Homo sapiens: one gene and its partners. The protein of the gene in region 4 purifies or fractionates together with the protein of the main gene of each other region. This does not show direct contact. Each region holds a gene or a part of one and is shown on either strand. Other genes may lie near its edges.

Region 1 (2,205 bases), on a different chromosome or scaffold from region 4:
ACTTTCTTTTTAGAAAAGATTGCATCATTCTTAGATGGCCATTCCTGGGATGGGCAGAGGGGGCACTCTGTGTGCCCCTTGCCTGCAGTGTGTTGGTGGGAGATACAGTCCCATGGCACATTTTCATCCTGTGACTTTCACCCACAGCTCTGTGGAAATGCTGCCTGGAAGAAAAGCATATCAGGGTACCTTTGGAGAGGTTGTCCTGGGTGGATCCTTAGGGTCTAGAGGTCTCAGCAGAGAGACGAGGGAAAGAAGGAGTGTTCAGGGGTAGTTATGTATTGGGAAATCCAAGCCTTTGTGTGGGTATCTCCTAGTTCATATGGAACCCAAGAATTCTCAACTATTCTCGAGGACTCTGCTTGGACCTTGTAAGGATCCGTGCCTTCCTGGATAGCTGAAACTCGGTGTCAGTCACATTTTCAACAGCTTTTATTGGGTACCCGCCTCTGCGTCTTGTATTGTCATAGCAGTTTACACACAGCAAGCCAGACCAGGAGTGAAGAATTCATGTCATTTGTTATTTTCTTTTATTTGTGAATATGTGTGGGGTTGGGAGACTGGGTGCTAGACATGAGCTGAGGTCCAGGCTAGGCACAGGGAGCTGACAGCTGCAGGACATGCTAATTGGTCTGGGAAGGCCTTTGGAATCTAGGGAATTGGCTTTCTGAGCTGAGGCGGGGTCCAGGCAAGGAGGCAACAGGCTGCAGGAATCACAAAGGGACCGGGGACCTCCATGTACCCAATATCTAGGTCTCATCAGTCGGAGAAACATTCTCAGCTCTTGGTGACCTTGTCCTCCCTCAACACGGTACTCACTGCATATGGACTCATTTGACAATTGCCACAAAGGCTTTGGCCTCAGAGGCACTTTAAGGATATAACAGTAGGAAAGGGAGGCTTGGGGAGCCAGAGAGTCACCCACACAAAGCCCCACACGTGTTCCTAGCAGAACCAGGATACACACCCAGGCTTCCTGAGGCCACATGTCCTCCCTGTGGCTGCCTGGTCATTCCCCTTCACCTAGCAGCTGTCTTGCTCCCATGTAGAACAGCAGGGCCCAGCGGCCACCTGCACCTCGCCATTTCCTCCAGCTCTGTGCTAGAAATGATGCAAGCAGGAAAATCATTTGCTTGTGGACCTACTATGTGTCAGGCACCTGCTGAACAGTAGCATTTGATGCTCTCGACGGCCTTAACAGGTCGGCACTGATCTGTTGATGCTGCAGTCGAGGAGCTTTAGCTTAGAGAGGTTAAATAGCATCCTCAAAGTCACCCAGGTCATGCTCTGCTTCTGGAGGGGCTGGGATGCAGCATGGGAGTGTGACCTCCTGCGCACGGACTGCACGGGCCGCCTCGCAGCCGGCATGGTGAGGTGAGATGAGTTGAGGTAAGCTCGCAGCTCCTTGGTGCCAGCCCTTCCACAACCAGAGCTGGGCGGCAGCAGGCTCTTCCCCAGCTTACCTGGGCAAGAGAGTGAGGACTGCACGGCTGGCGAGTGATACATGGAGAGTGTTGCCGCCTGCCTGACAGGCAGAAGATAAACAGCTCCCCGTTAAATCTCGCTTAATGCTGATATTTATAAATTTATTCAGCTTGTGTTTACCGAATCAAGAGAATGCCTAATAACATAACATGCTTCATCTCACATGTTCCTACTAATGAGAATGCAAGTATTGCTTTTTTTTTTTTTTTAACATTTCATTTGCTTTCCACTCACTCCACCCTGTTCTGTTGTTGTTGGCTTAGAGTTTAATCTGTTGCTAAACACTGGGAAGTCTGGGCTTCTCGGGTGTTAGTGAGGAGAGAGCCAAGGTGGGTCTGGGGCAGTGGCTGGACCAAGGCCTCCAAACTGTGCCCTGTCCTACATGCAGTGCTTGGTGGACATGGAGTTGGCATACCCAAAGGATGGGCCATACTGAGGGAAAATGAAAGTCCTGGTGTCCTCTGCTGTATTTTGGGGTGGCTTCGTGCATTGGGTCAGGGTTGCAGTATTTGGGGGCTTCGGGACAAAAAATTTAGAGTAGAGCAGTGTCCTTGGCTTTGGACAGACAGGAGGATGGACAGAATGACCAAGGAAACATAAGCAACATTTGTGGGGTGTGGTATAGCTGGGTGTGAGGATGAGTGTGTGAGAGGGGTGGAGGGCTCCGTCTCTACCTTTGTTTAATCTGCTTACTGAGTTATTGGTTTTGTTTTTTGTTTT
Region 2 (3,500 bases), on a different chromosome or scaffold from region 4:
TTGGCAGGGAAAAAATGGTCATATAGGCTGGTACCACATTTTGGGACTGTAAATACCCCCTTGTAGTGCTATAATCCCTGGATTTCGCCAACAATTTAAATTCAAAGTCCTAACCATTCCTGCTGGTTGAAACGAAACTTAACATGTATTCTCTAAATCAAAGCCTTAATGTTTCTTTCAGGTTACTGATTGTCTATTCATTGGCATATAATATCCCCTGAATTAAGAAGAATATGTACTTTTCAGTTACAAAGTACCTACCATAATTTCTGCTAAGGGAACAAATCCAATAACAACTTTGTTGTCCTGGCGAGTCTGAATTTCCTGAATGTTTCCTCTTCTTTGTGCCAGATCTGCCAGGACAGGGCTGAGATAATCTCTAGCTACTGTAACCTCAAGATTCATCAGAGGCTCCAAAACTTGCTTATCAGCTTTCTTCAGAGCCTAAAGAAATTAAAGAATGTTAACTTATCTTTCATAAATAAAAACTTAAAATAAATACAGCCTAGAGCTCATACAAAAAGACATAAGCTTGCTTTAACTCTCTCTTTAAAGATAACGTTTTATAAGATGGCAACAACTATAATATTTGCTTGTATAATAAGCATGATAACAGAATTTATAGATCTTTTGTATGGTATGATGCAAGGGGATGTTTATAAAAAATGCCTGTGAACATGTGGTCAGAGTCACAGAAAGTCCTCCCCTTTCAAAGATTCATTTGTTCATATTTAAACCTCATGTTTCTGTTCCTGATGTCTATAATTACAGTCCATGCCATGCCACATGCCAGAGACAGCAATAAAGGGGAGAGCTTAAAAAAAAGGAAAAATTTAGTGCAATAAGGTAGTAGAAACATTATGTAAAATCTTTTCTTATTTAGAATCTTAGATTTCAAAGGCCAAGAAGAACATGCATAAAGAATGTGGAAACTGAAAATGTCTTTCAGAATAAAATAATGGAATTGAAAAGGATGTAAAAATTAAGAGAAAAAAATCCTAAAAAAGATTGAATTCTGCATATCTAACTAGGGCATACCATGCTCACAGAACTGTTCTTAGTCCTCTTTTCACAATCTTTTCCTGTCAATATTACCTATCTGGAGAGCTTCAAAAACGACTTCAACATGGCTTCCTCAAAAACGTTAAATCCTATGCAGCCCATAGTTTGAGTGCTCCAGTCCTGTACTCCATTGGCCTGCTTTGGGATAGTGTCTGAATATCCGGCAGCTCTCCAACATGTCCCACACTGAGCTCATCATTTTCTTCTCCAAACACTTCTATGCACATCCCTTTTTCTGATGATGACATCAGTAGTCTTCAGTTCACCTTTGACTTCCTTTTCCCCAAGTAAGCTGTAAGATTTTTTTTGTTTTTCCCATTCCTATTGCTGGCATCCTAGGTCAAACTTAGTCCATTTCCTGTCCTCTACTATCTCTTCCCTATTCAAATCCCTTCTGTACTTTGATACTTCTCTCTTCGAAACCTTTAAATTATGCTCCACCATTCTCAGAACAAAGTTCAAACTCTTTAATGTAGTTTTTAAAGTTTTCTCTACAGTCTGAAACCATTTTACTTTTTCAACACACAACTCCCCTGCCTTCATCTGGTACTACAGTTAAAAGGACTCTTATCTGTGTCTGGAATGTCCCCCACCATGCTCACGTCCTCCAAAATCATCTCAGCTCAAATATAAATCTTTCCAAGAATCCTCCCCAATTCCCTGCTTCCTACTACTTTCATGGCATTCACCCATTTTATCTAATACTTTGGCTATATTTAATTCCCTTATGAAATCACAAGCTCCTTTAGGTAGAGTAAAATATAATCCTATTTGTGTCCTTCTCAGTGCCTGGTGAACTATAAGCACAACACAGATGACTCAATAAATACATGAAGCACTTACAAGCAGAGAGAAGGAGATTCCCCATTAGAAGAAGCTTAACAAGGGTAGCAGTACTTCCATTAGGAGTGTTTTGTTTGAAGTAACGAATTAACACTAATGACTAAATGTAAGCCCCCATAAAGTTAATTCTTGTTCTCTGGCATAATCTTATTAAAAAGGCAAATGAACATGGAAATGCAGACTTTATTTTTAGAAGGCATATTACATTTTGAAGGACAGGCCAATATATTGAGGGCTTGGGGTCAATTTAGAAACTGCATTATTTTTCAGATTACCTTAGTTTCAATATTAAAACCAATTTCCAGAGAAACTTTAAAAATTACTTGGGGATGGGCATGGTGGCTTACACCTGTAATCCTAGCACTTTGGGTTTGGGAGGCCGAGGTTGGCAGACTGCTTGAGCCCAGGAGTTCAAGACCAGCCTGGGCAACATAGTGAGACCTTGTCTCTTAAAAAAAAAAAAAAAACAATTTAAAAATTACTTGAGGGTGAATTTTCTCAACAATATCGTCATAACTACTTTGCAGGTAACATTTCCAACATACTCTTAGGTGAACAATATTTAAACTTTTTTCAAAGCTTTGTTTTTAATCAAAAAGCTTTTTAAGAAGTATAAATTTAAACTCATGTCGAAGAGATATCAAGTTTGGCTTTCTTAGGTTAGGGGTTTGGAATACTTAAATTAACTTTGTAATTTCGGATTCAAATAAAACTACAGAAAATTGGGTCTCAAACACAGTCCAAGTATTAAAAAATGGCTATAAAACCAAGTATAAATAATGCAAAAGCAATCACCTAAGAAATTAGGGTAGTTCAATGCTGAGAAGAATGCATGGAATCAGCATTCAGCATACCACACTCCTGGGAGTTAATCCAGTTCTGGTAGGTTCATGAGGCAGGAAGCGGAGGGTCCACGACACTTAAGGACAAACTCCCCAGATAACCACACCAAGAAGACCCATTGCTTGATGCTTTGAGAAGAGAAGGTGCTTAGCCTGAATCTGTTATTCAGTGGGACTTAACTGGTTTCAATGGTCCTTGATTAAAGCAATCTTTATAATTTAATATAAGTAGAGAAATATATGGAACTCTATAAGAATTTGCATGTCATCCTTGTGCAGGGCCATGCTAATCTTCTCTGTATCGTTCCAATTTTAGTATATGTGCTGCTGAAGCAAGCACTAAAGCAATCTTATTTGAATAACAATCTCCAAAACTGGAACCAATATTGGATCTTCAGTGTTCTTTAGATTACAGTCCATTTTGGGCCAAGCTAACCTCAAATCTGGCTTCTACTCAAACCTACCATGCTTGCCTCTAATAGCTGTCTGTCAGGGATGGGGAAAGCAGAAATGTCACTTAAGGAAGCTTGCCTCTTTATCAGAGTATATTCCAATAGCAATCCATGTTACATAGTAATTTCTAAGATCCTCTTTGAAATAAAAACCTGGTGATTAAGAAATCAGAGATTCTCCATGATAAGAACTCTTGTTGACCACAAGGCTGAGGAGGCAAAGACACAAGATAAGGCTCTGTAAACACAGCTGTCTGCAAGATCAGTGGTACTATACTCAGAAGAGTCACCTTAAAGCCAT
Region 3 (3,500 bases), on a different chromosome or scaffold from region 4:
GTCAAGAAAAATTATAGTAAATTCTGATGGCTGCATTAGGACTGGTGCTGCCCCTCCTGCCCCAGTTGGCCCTAGCAAGGGGTATTAACATTATAGAGGCCCAAAAAGAGGAAGGAATTTGTCTAGACTCCAAGCAAGGCTGGAACTAAATCAGAATCCAAACTAAAGACTGAACCTAAATGTTCCCTATAAGAAGGTTCTCTGCATGGACAATTCTCCATTCACTTCCTTCTTTCCCTAACACTGGCCACCCTCTATGCGGGGGTGGGGATCAGAGAAAAGTCTATGAGGGGAGCCTGGCACAGTACATTTATTTTGCCCCACCACCACCATTTTGTCCACCTCTGAAAGGTAAGAGCAACTTTTGGGTGAAGCACTCTAAAAGAGCGATTTCTCATGTTTAGTAGAGGAGGAATTGAGGTTGGGGCTTTTAGAAGGAAAATCATGCAGGTTCTATATCCATTTTATAGCTGAGGACACAAGGCCAAGAAAGGAACAGTGGTTTGCTCACTCAGATTATGGCAGAACCATAGTGAAGACCCAGGAAATGTCCAGGTTCTGAATAAGGAACTTACCTTGCAGAGTCAGATTCTGTAGCAAAAAGAGCACCTCGCTCTGACAGTCAGCGAGATTCATGTCATGGAAGCTCAGTCTTTTCAGGGCTAGGTTGTACTCTGGATAGGAGGCAGAGACCATGGACCATGGACCTTAGCTTTCCTAGAGAACAGTGCTAGGTCCCCACCTACTCCTCTCCCTTCACCATTCTGGCTGGGTCCTACCTTTGAGTGTTTGCAAAACAAGCCCAAAATCCTGGGGAGAGGCAAAGGTGGCACTATCCAGGGACAGCTGCTGCAGAGAACCCGAGGCCTTCAGAACGGAGCACAGCAGTGGGGCTGGCTGGGCTCCCCGTGGAAATCCCATCTCCAACTGCTCCAGGCAGTTTTCTGGATATGGTGGGGAAAGAAGATTCCAGCTGGCCATCTCTACCTCACTCCCATAGCAGGTCCCATCCTGTTCTTAAGGGATTCATCTAAAAAATTATTTATTCATTCACTTGTCGTTGAGTGCCTACCATATGTCAGCACTGTGCTAGATTCTAGGAATTGAGCACTAAATATGAGATTTAGTCCTTGCCCTTGTAGAAATTTTAGACCAGGAAGACAGGCTACCCAGACACAAGCAAATAAAGTATGCAGAGTGGTGGGATAGGAGACATACAAGAACTAAGGGAACATACAGCAGGGGAACTAATCCAGTCTAAAGATCAGTTCTTTTCCTTTTCTGGAGACCAAGCTGCCTTGGTCACTCTCTGCTGGTCTTATGGTGGTTTAGGCCCTGTCTAGCTCAAGAGTATCTTAGTGGTAGGCTCTAAAGGGGGGATAGGTTCCAGATAAGCCAGGAATGAGTGATAGAAGAGGTCCTTCCCCTTTCCCCATACGAATGCATCTGCACCTTTGTGTGGGGATACACGTGCGTGCACACACACAAACACACACACAGTGCTTCACCTGGTATCTCCTCATCGCCTATTATGTGGCTAGGGGGCCCTGCATTCCCTGGCACACCAGGGTTGTCCCGCTGGCTTGGGTGGTCAACACGAATAGAGAGGACCCGTAGCAGGGGCAGTGCTCGCACGATAGCACGTGTCAGCTCCAGGATGGGCAGTGGTGAGAACAGGTCACTGAGATGCAGGGCACGGAGGCGACATCCAGCCTGGCCTGACAGGGCCCGCAGGCTGTCTAGCAGGCGGAAGATGTTAGAGCCCAGGCCTATGGCAAGAAAGAGATTAAGTCAGAACCATGTGGGAGTGTCAGCAGGGGTAATATATTCAAATACAACTCCAAATACTTTTGGTTACTAGCAAATCTCTTGGGCTTTGGCTCAGCTTATTTAAACCCATTTGTCTTAACTACTCATCCATGTCTTGCTTTTTCCTTAGGTAACCAGCAAACTGAGGTCTGCTGTTTTGGGTTATGCCCACAAGAAGCACCAGTCAGGGCAGAGTCACAAAATTGAGAAGATACAATATGGTGAGGCAGCATGTGGCTACTAGCTGAATGACAGGCACAGACAGTAGCAGTTCTCTGGATTTCTGGGTTCTGAGTAGTTTTCTGAAGAAACTGGCCTTGAAGGAAGGAAGTTTTGGATAGAGGGAGAAGACATAGTCAAGAGTCCCAGCTAGCCGGGAGCGGTGGCTCACGCCTGTAATCCCAGCACTTTGGGAGGCCAAGGTGGGCAGATCACTTGAGGCCAGGAGTTCCAGACCAGCCTGGCCAACATGGTGAAACCCTGTCTCTACTAAAAATACAGAAATTAGCTGGGCTGGGTGGCACATGCCTGTAGTCCCAGCTACTCGGGAGGCTGAGGCAGGAGAATCACTTGAACCCAGGAGACGGAGGTTGCAGTGAGCTGAGATCACGCCACTGCACTCCGGCTTAGGTGAAAAAGCAAGACTGTCTCAAAAAAAAAAAAAAAATCACAGCTAGGAGAGTGCAAGGCATGAATGAGACGCTTGCTTGTTTGGCTACATGAGGCTCAGGAAACAGCTCTAGAGGGCAGGGCACTGGAGGCCACATTATGGAAAGGCAAAGGGATGGTTTAACCTAGACGCAATAGGGAGCACCTAAAAACTATGGAGAGTGACAGTGACCCAACTGGGATACTTAAAAGAATCAATGGGTGGGAATGGGGCAGGAAAAGATAACCAAATCCCACAGCATGGACTAGGATCCAGGAAGGTTGGTTGCTTAATGCCACAGGCAAATAATTCCTTGGACTATGCAGGCTCCTGTTCATTCATTCAACTACCCAGTGCCTACTAAATATCAAGTTTTTTGCTAGACACTAGTGAGCAGCACATTGCTTTTTTTTCTTACATAGCTTGATAATGCGATGGGAACTGGGGGAATAAAGTACTATGAAATTACAAAGGATGAGTACCTAGTCCAGCTTACATCAGTAAAGGCACTCCAGCTAAGTCCTAAAGAACATAAAGGGGACAGGCTAAAATTTAGGAAGAATGATTGTGGCAGAGGCAACTTGGCATATGTAGAGGCCTGAAGGAGAACAAAAAAATTTCATAATGGCTGGTGTGAGAGTGTGAAGGGGGGAAGCATTCAAGATACAACTATAGGCCAGGTGTGGTGGCTCACACCTATATAATCCCAGCACTTTGGGAGGCTGAGGTAGGCAGATCACCTGAGGTCGGGAGCCCAAGACCAGCCTGGCCAACATAGTGAAACCCCGTCTCTACTAAAAATACAAAAATTAGCTGGGCATGGTGGCATGTGCCTGTAATCCCAGCTACTGAGTCAGTAGAATTGCTTGGACCCGAGAGGCGGAGGTTGCAGTAAGCCAAGATTGCACCATTGCACTCCAGCCTGGGTGACAACAGAGACTCCCTGTCAAAAAAAAAAAAAAAAAAGATACAACTATAGAGATAACCAGGAGTAAGAATATGAATGACCACTAAGTAAAATTAAGCCATTGAAGGGTGTTTG
Region 4 (4,111 bases):
CGCCACATCAGGGACACCCGCAGGATGGCGTAGCCCTCGTAGTCGGTGTCCAGCACGTGGATCTCTCTGTGGCCTTCAAGAGCCGGCCATGGCGTTGGGGGAGACGTCTGAGGGGGACGGACCTCGAAGGCCAGGGTCTGCAGGGTCTAACTCCATCCTGCCCCCACCCAGTCCCAGCACTTGAGTGGTTGGAGACACTACAGAAGCTTTTGAAGGATGATCCAGTGTGTTGGTGGGAGAATGGGAAGGTCTGGGGCATGAAATGTGCAGGGAACAGCATGGGGAACAGTGCAGGGAACCCTGCAGGGAACAGCATGGGGAACGGTGCAGGAAACAGCATGGGGAACAGTGCAGGGAACAGCATGGGGAACAGTGCAGGGAACAGTGCAGGGAATGCATGGGGAACGGCACAGAGAAAAGTGCAGGGAACAGCATGGGGAATAGTGCAGGGAGCAGTGCGGGGAACAGTGCAGGGAGCATTGCAGGGAACAGCATGGGGAACAGTGCAGGGAACAGTGCAGGGAATGCATGGGGAACGGCACAGAGAAAAGTGCAGGGAACAGCATGGGGAATAGTGCAGGAAACAGCATGGGGAACAGTGCAGGGAGCAGTGCGGGGAACAGTGCAGGGAGCATTGCAGGGAACAGCATGGGGAACAGTGCAGGGAACAGCATGGGGAACAGCGCAGGGAACAGCATGTGGAACAGCGCAGGGAACAGCATGAGGAACAGTGCAGGGAACAGCATGGGGAACAGCGCAGGGAACAGCATGGGGAACAGTGCAGGGAACAGTGCAGGGAACGCATGGGGAATGGCGCAGAGAAAAGTGCAGGGAACAGCATGGGGAATAGTGCAGGAAACAGCATGTGGAACAGTGCAGGGAGCAGTGCAGGGAACAACATGGGGAACAGCACAGGGAATAGTTCAGGGAACAGCATGGGGAACAGTGCAGGGAACAGCACAGAGAACAGTGCAGGGAACAGCATGGGGAACAGTGCAGGGAACAGCATGGGGAACAATAAGGCCTAGCTGTGTGCACAGCCGGGTTCCACCTGCCATCACAGGGCAACTGCACTTACCAGGAAAAGCGAATTTTCCCGTACTGTCTATTTCTGAGCCCACGATCTTCTCTATCTCACAGCTTCCTGAGCTGAAAGGCAGCAAAGTGCCCATCGGTAAAATGCTAGCCTGTGTCCCGCCTGCTGGGCTCCTTCCCGGAGTGGGGCTGTGTCTTTAGGAAGGGCACAGGCAGCACTGTGGAGTATCCCAGGCCTGGAGCAGGATGAGGCGGGGAATGTGCCAGGTGGGGCCTTCCCCTGGGGATTCTGTTCCCTCCAGCCAGTCACCTGTCCCACACCCCTTTTCCTTCCTTCTAAGTTCACGGGGCTTCATTAAAACACTATGCTTATATTTGGGATAAAATGCAGATCCAGGAGCCTGGGGGTCGAGGGCTCAGGCAGACGGGCACCGGGAGTGCTGGCCCACCAGCGGGACGGCACTCAGCCCAGACCCCACGCTGCAGCGGGTGCAGCAACCCACGCCCAGTCCCCGGCCATGCATGCCTCTTCCTCTCCAGCAGCCCCCAGGCCTCTTACCTGTTATATGCAACCTTCACGGTCAGGTTACTCCCGCTCAAGGTGAGGAACAAGCCCTCCACCCGCTTCGGGGCCGTCAGCACCAGGCTTTGATCGGAGGCCACACCGACTTCCCTCCAGAATCCTCCAATCTAGAGAGATACGGAGCCTGGCCAAGAGCTGAGCAGTGGGTCTGAGACCCCCAGGGGCATTCCACGAACCCCCGGGCAGGGGCCTGCTGGGCTCTGAGAGGTCAGCAGATGGCTGTGAGGCTCGGTGGCAAAGCAGCAAGACATCTGTGAGCCCACTGTCCCCAGGCATGTGTCCCTCCAAGCGGTGCCTTCAGGCCATCAGACAGCAATGCCCACAGGGCAGCCCCTCCCCACTGGGCCATCTAGAGCTGCGGAACAGTCCCTAGGGCTTCTGCGACATGTCGGGAGGAACCACAGGCCCTGCCTGACCTCGGAGGCAGGACCCAGGAGCAGAGGCCTGGAAAAGAAAGCCCGCAGGGCGCGGCGGAGTGAGAAACGCCAGAGAACAGGTGGCTCGGGTAGCGCAGCTCGCCAGCCTGCCAACCACGCCAGAGGATGGGCCTCCTGCCCTCAGCAACCCGCCCAGAGCCGGGACTTCCGCTGAGACTTTTAAAAACCCTACCATTTTCGGGAGGAAAGAATCTTCGTCTCCGGCATCTACCTTCTCTGGGCCTGCTAATGTGCCTCTGGCCCAGCAGCCGGCACAGACTCAGCGGAGAAGAAAATGCCGCTAACAGGAAGTGTCTAGCCGGGCACCAGCGTCCCCACGAGCTCCCCACACCGGGAGAGGCCTCCTTCCCTGAGCCTGAGGGGTTGGGGGTGTAGGAGGAGCCCCACCAACTAAGAAGGAGAAGCCACCTTCTGCCGGTCCAGCTCCTCCATGGCTGCTGCCACCTGCGCCCGGAGCACCACGAGGACACCCAGGATGGTGCACGGCAGCCTGGCCTCCGTGGCGGGGTCCGGGCTCCGGGTTCCCCTGCTGCACAGCCTGGGCCGATTCTATACGGACAGTGCAGGCTTGTGCGCCCACCCGGGAATGTCATCAGGACAGCTTGGCTGCTGGCAGCTCAGAGACGTGGGTTTCTGCACAAGCGCCATCGGCCCTGGTGACACCCACGCCCACCGCAGGGGTTAGCCTGGCCTAGACAGCAGCCTGCCCAGCCACCCTCCTGGCATATGGACAGCGGTGGACGCTGCTGGGGCCGTCTCGGAGCCTGAGAGGAAGAGGAGCTCCACCCACACCACCTGGGGCTCGGTGACCCCCACCCCACATGACACTTGTTTTTTTGGGCTCGTTCTGGCCTGCGCTGCGAGGGCTGTGGGCACTGATGGGCAACGGACCAGAGCCTCCAGCACTTTCCTGTGCCACCCCACGCCTGGCCCTTTGAAATGTGTGCCAGACGCAGTGGGCAGTCAGAGCTCCGGAGGCCGGAGGCACAGCGCCAGCGACCAGAGTGACAGTGACAGTGGGGAGGGCCTCTGCTGCACCAGGCATCACCACCCGGGGGCAGTGTGGAGCCCGGCCCTGGAGCCTGATCACCCAGGCTTGCAGCCCGCCTGGCCTCTTCCTGGCTGTGCAGCCTTGGATAAGTTACCCAACCCTTCTGTGCCTCGGTTTCTTGATTTTTTTTTTCTTTTTTTTTTTTTCCTGAGACAGAGTCTTGCTCCATCGCCCAGGCTGGAGTGCAGTGGCACAATCTCAGCTCACTGCAGCCTCTGCCTCCTGGGTTCAAGCGATTCTCCTGCCTCAGCCTCCTGAGTAGCTGGGACTACAGGTGTGCGCCACCACGCCCGGTTAAGTCTTGTATTTTTAGTAGGGACGGGGTTTTGCCATGTTGGCCAGGCTGGTCTCAAACTCCTGGCCTCAAGTGATCCACCCGCCTCGGCCTCCCAAAGTGCTGGGATTACAGGCATGAGCCACCGCGCCAGGCCAGTTTCCTGATCTTTGAAATGAGGAGTACGCTGGGTAGCTACCTATGTCTGTGGGTCTGCTGTGGAGCGCTCAGGCTGGCTGGCAGTCCCCTGGCCACAACGGTGACCCATTTCCAGGGGTGTAAACCAGGTGCCCACGATCATATCAGTGGTGAGGGGCAAAACCCAAGTGGGCCTAACTCCCCGGCCTCCTGCAGCTCCCCCAGCTCCCCCCCCGGCACCGGGGCCTGTGTGCCCAGCACAGCCCCAGTGGCCGGGCCGTCTTCACAGGGTGCCCAGTTCCCCACAGCACTGCAGACCCATAGGGACTGGGCCAGGATGCTCCATTCTTCCTGTGGGTGCAGCCCCCACACAGGCCAAGAGTGGCTGCTGCCTCCTGCCCCTCCCCAGGGCCCCTCACCCCTGTCCCCTGCCCCCTCACCCAGGGCCCTTCACCCCTGCCCCCTGCCCCTTCCCAGGGCCCCTCACCCCTGCCCCCTGCCCCTCCCCAGGGCCTCTCACCCCTGCCTCCTGCCCTCTCACCCCTGCGTCCTGCTCCCTCGGCCAGGGCCTTCTCACACTTGCCTCCCTGCCT

What was found. The genes of interacting proteins can lie anywhere in the genome.
Region 1: the proteins of LCN8 (region 4) and FAHD2A purify together in Homo sapiens (affinity purification with mass spectrometry; one large-scale study listed by BioGRID and IntAct). This does not show direct contact.
Region 2: the proteins of LCN8 (region 4) and GFM2 purify together in Homo sapiens (affinity purification with mass spectrometry; one large-scale study listed by BioGRID and IntAct). This does not show direct contact.
Region 3: the proteins of LCN8 (region 4) and LRRC41 purify together in Homo sapiens (affinity purification with mass spectrometry; one large-scale study listed by BioGRID and IntAct). This does not show direct contact.

What each region holds. Positions count from the first base shown.
Region 1 is NC_000002.12:95,414,912-95,417,116, reverse strand, and holds the end of FAHD2A (oxaloacetate tautomerase FAHD2A, mitochondrial), read right to left. Parts: 3' UTR 501-2,205; downstream 1-500. UniProt on the Homo sapiens protein: Tautomerase that converts enol-oxaloacetate, a strong inhibitor of succinate dehydrogenase, to the physiological keto form of oxaloacetate. It is thereby required to maximize aerobic respiration efficiency by preventing succinate dehydrogenase inhibition.
Region 2 is NC_000005.10:74,722,118-74,725,617, forward strand, and holds part of GFM2 (ribosome-releasing factor 2, mitochondrial), read right to left. Parts: intron 445-3,500; coding exon 262-444; intron 1-261.
Region 3 is NC_000001.11:46,279,617-46,283,116, forward strand, and holds part of LRRC41 (leucine-rich repeat-containing protein 41), read right to left. Parts: intron 1,770-3,500; coding exon 1,509-1,769; intron 945-1,508; coding exon 780-944; intron 675-779; coding exon 576-674; intron 1-575. UniProt on the Homo sapiens protein: Probable substrate recognition component of an ECS (Elongin BC-CUL2/5-SOCS-box protein) E3 ubiquitin ligase complex which mediates the ubiquitination and subsequent proteasomal degradation of target proteins.
Region 4 is NC_000009.12:136,755,444-136,759,554, forward strand, and holds the start of LCN8 (epididymal-specific lipocalin-8), read right to left. Parts: upstream 2,801-4,111; 5' UTR 2,488-2,800; coding exon 2,464-2,487; intron 1,726-2,463; coding exon 1,595-1,725; intron 1,150-1,594; coding exon 1,079-1,149; intron 1,010-1,078; exon of another isoform or gene 74-1,009; coding exon 1-73. UniProt on the Homo sapiens protein: May play a role in male fertility. May act as a retinoid carrier protein within the epididymis.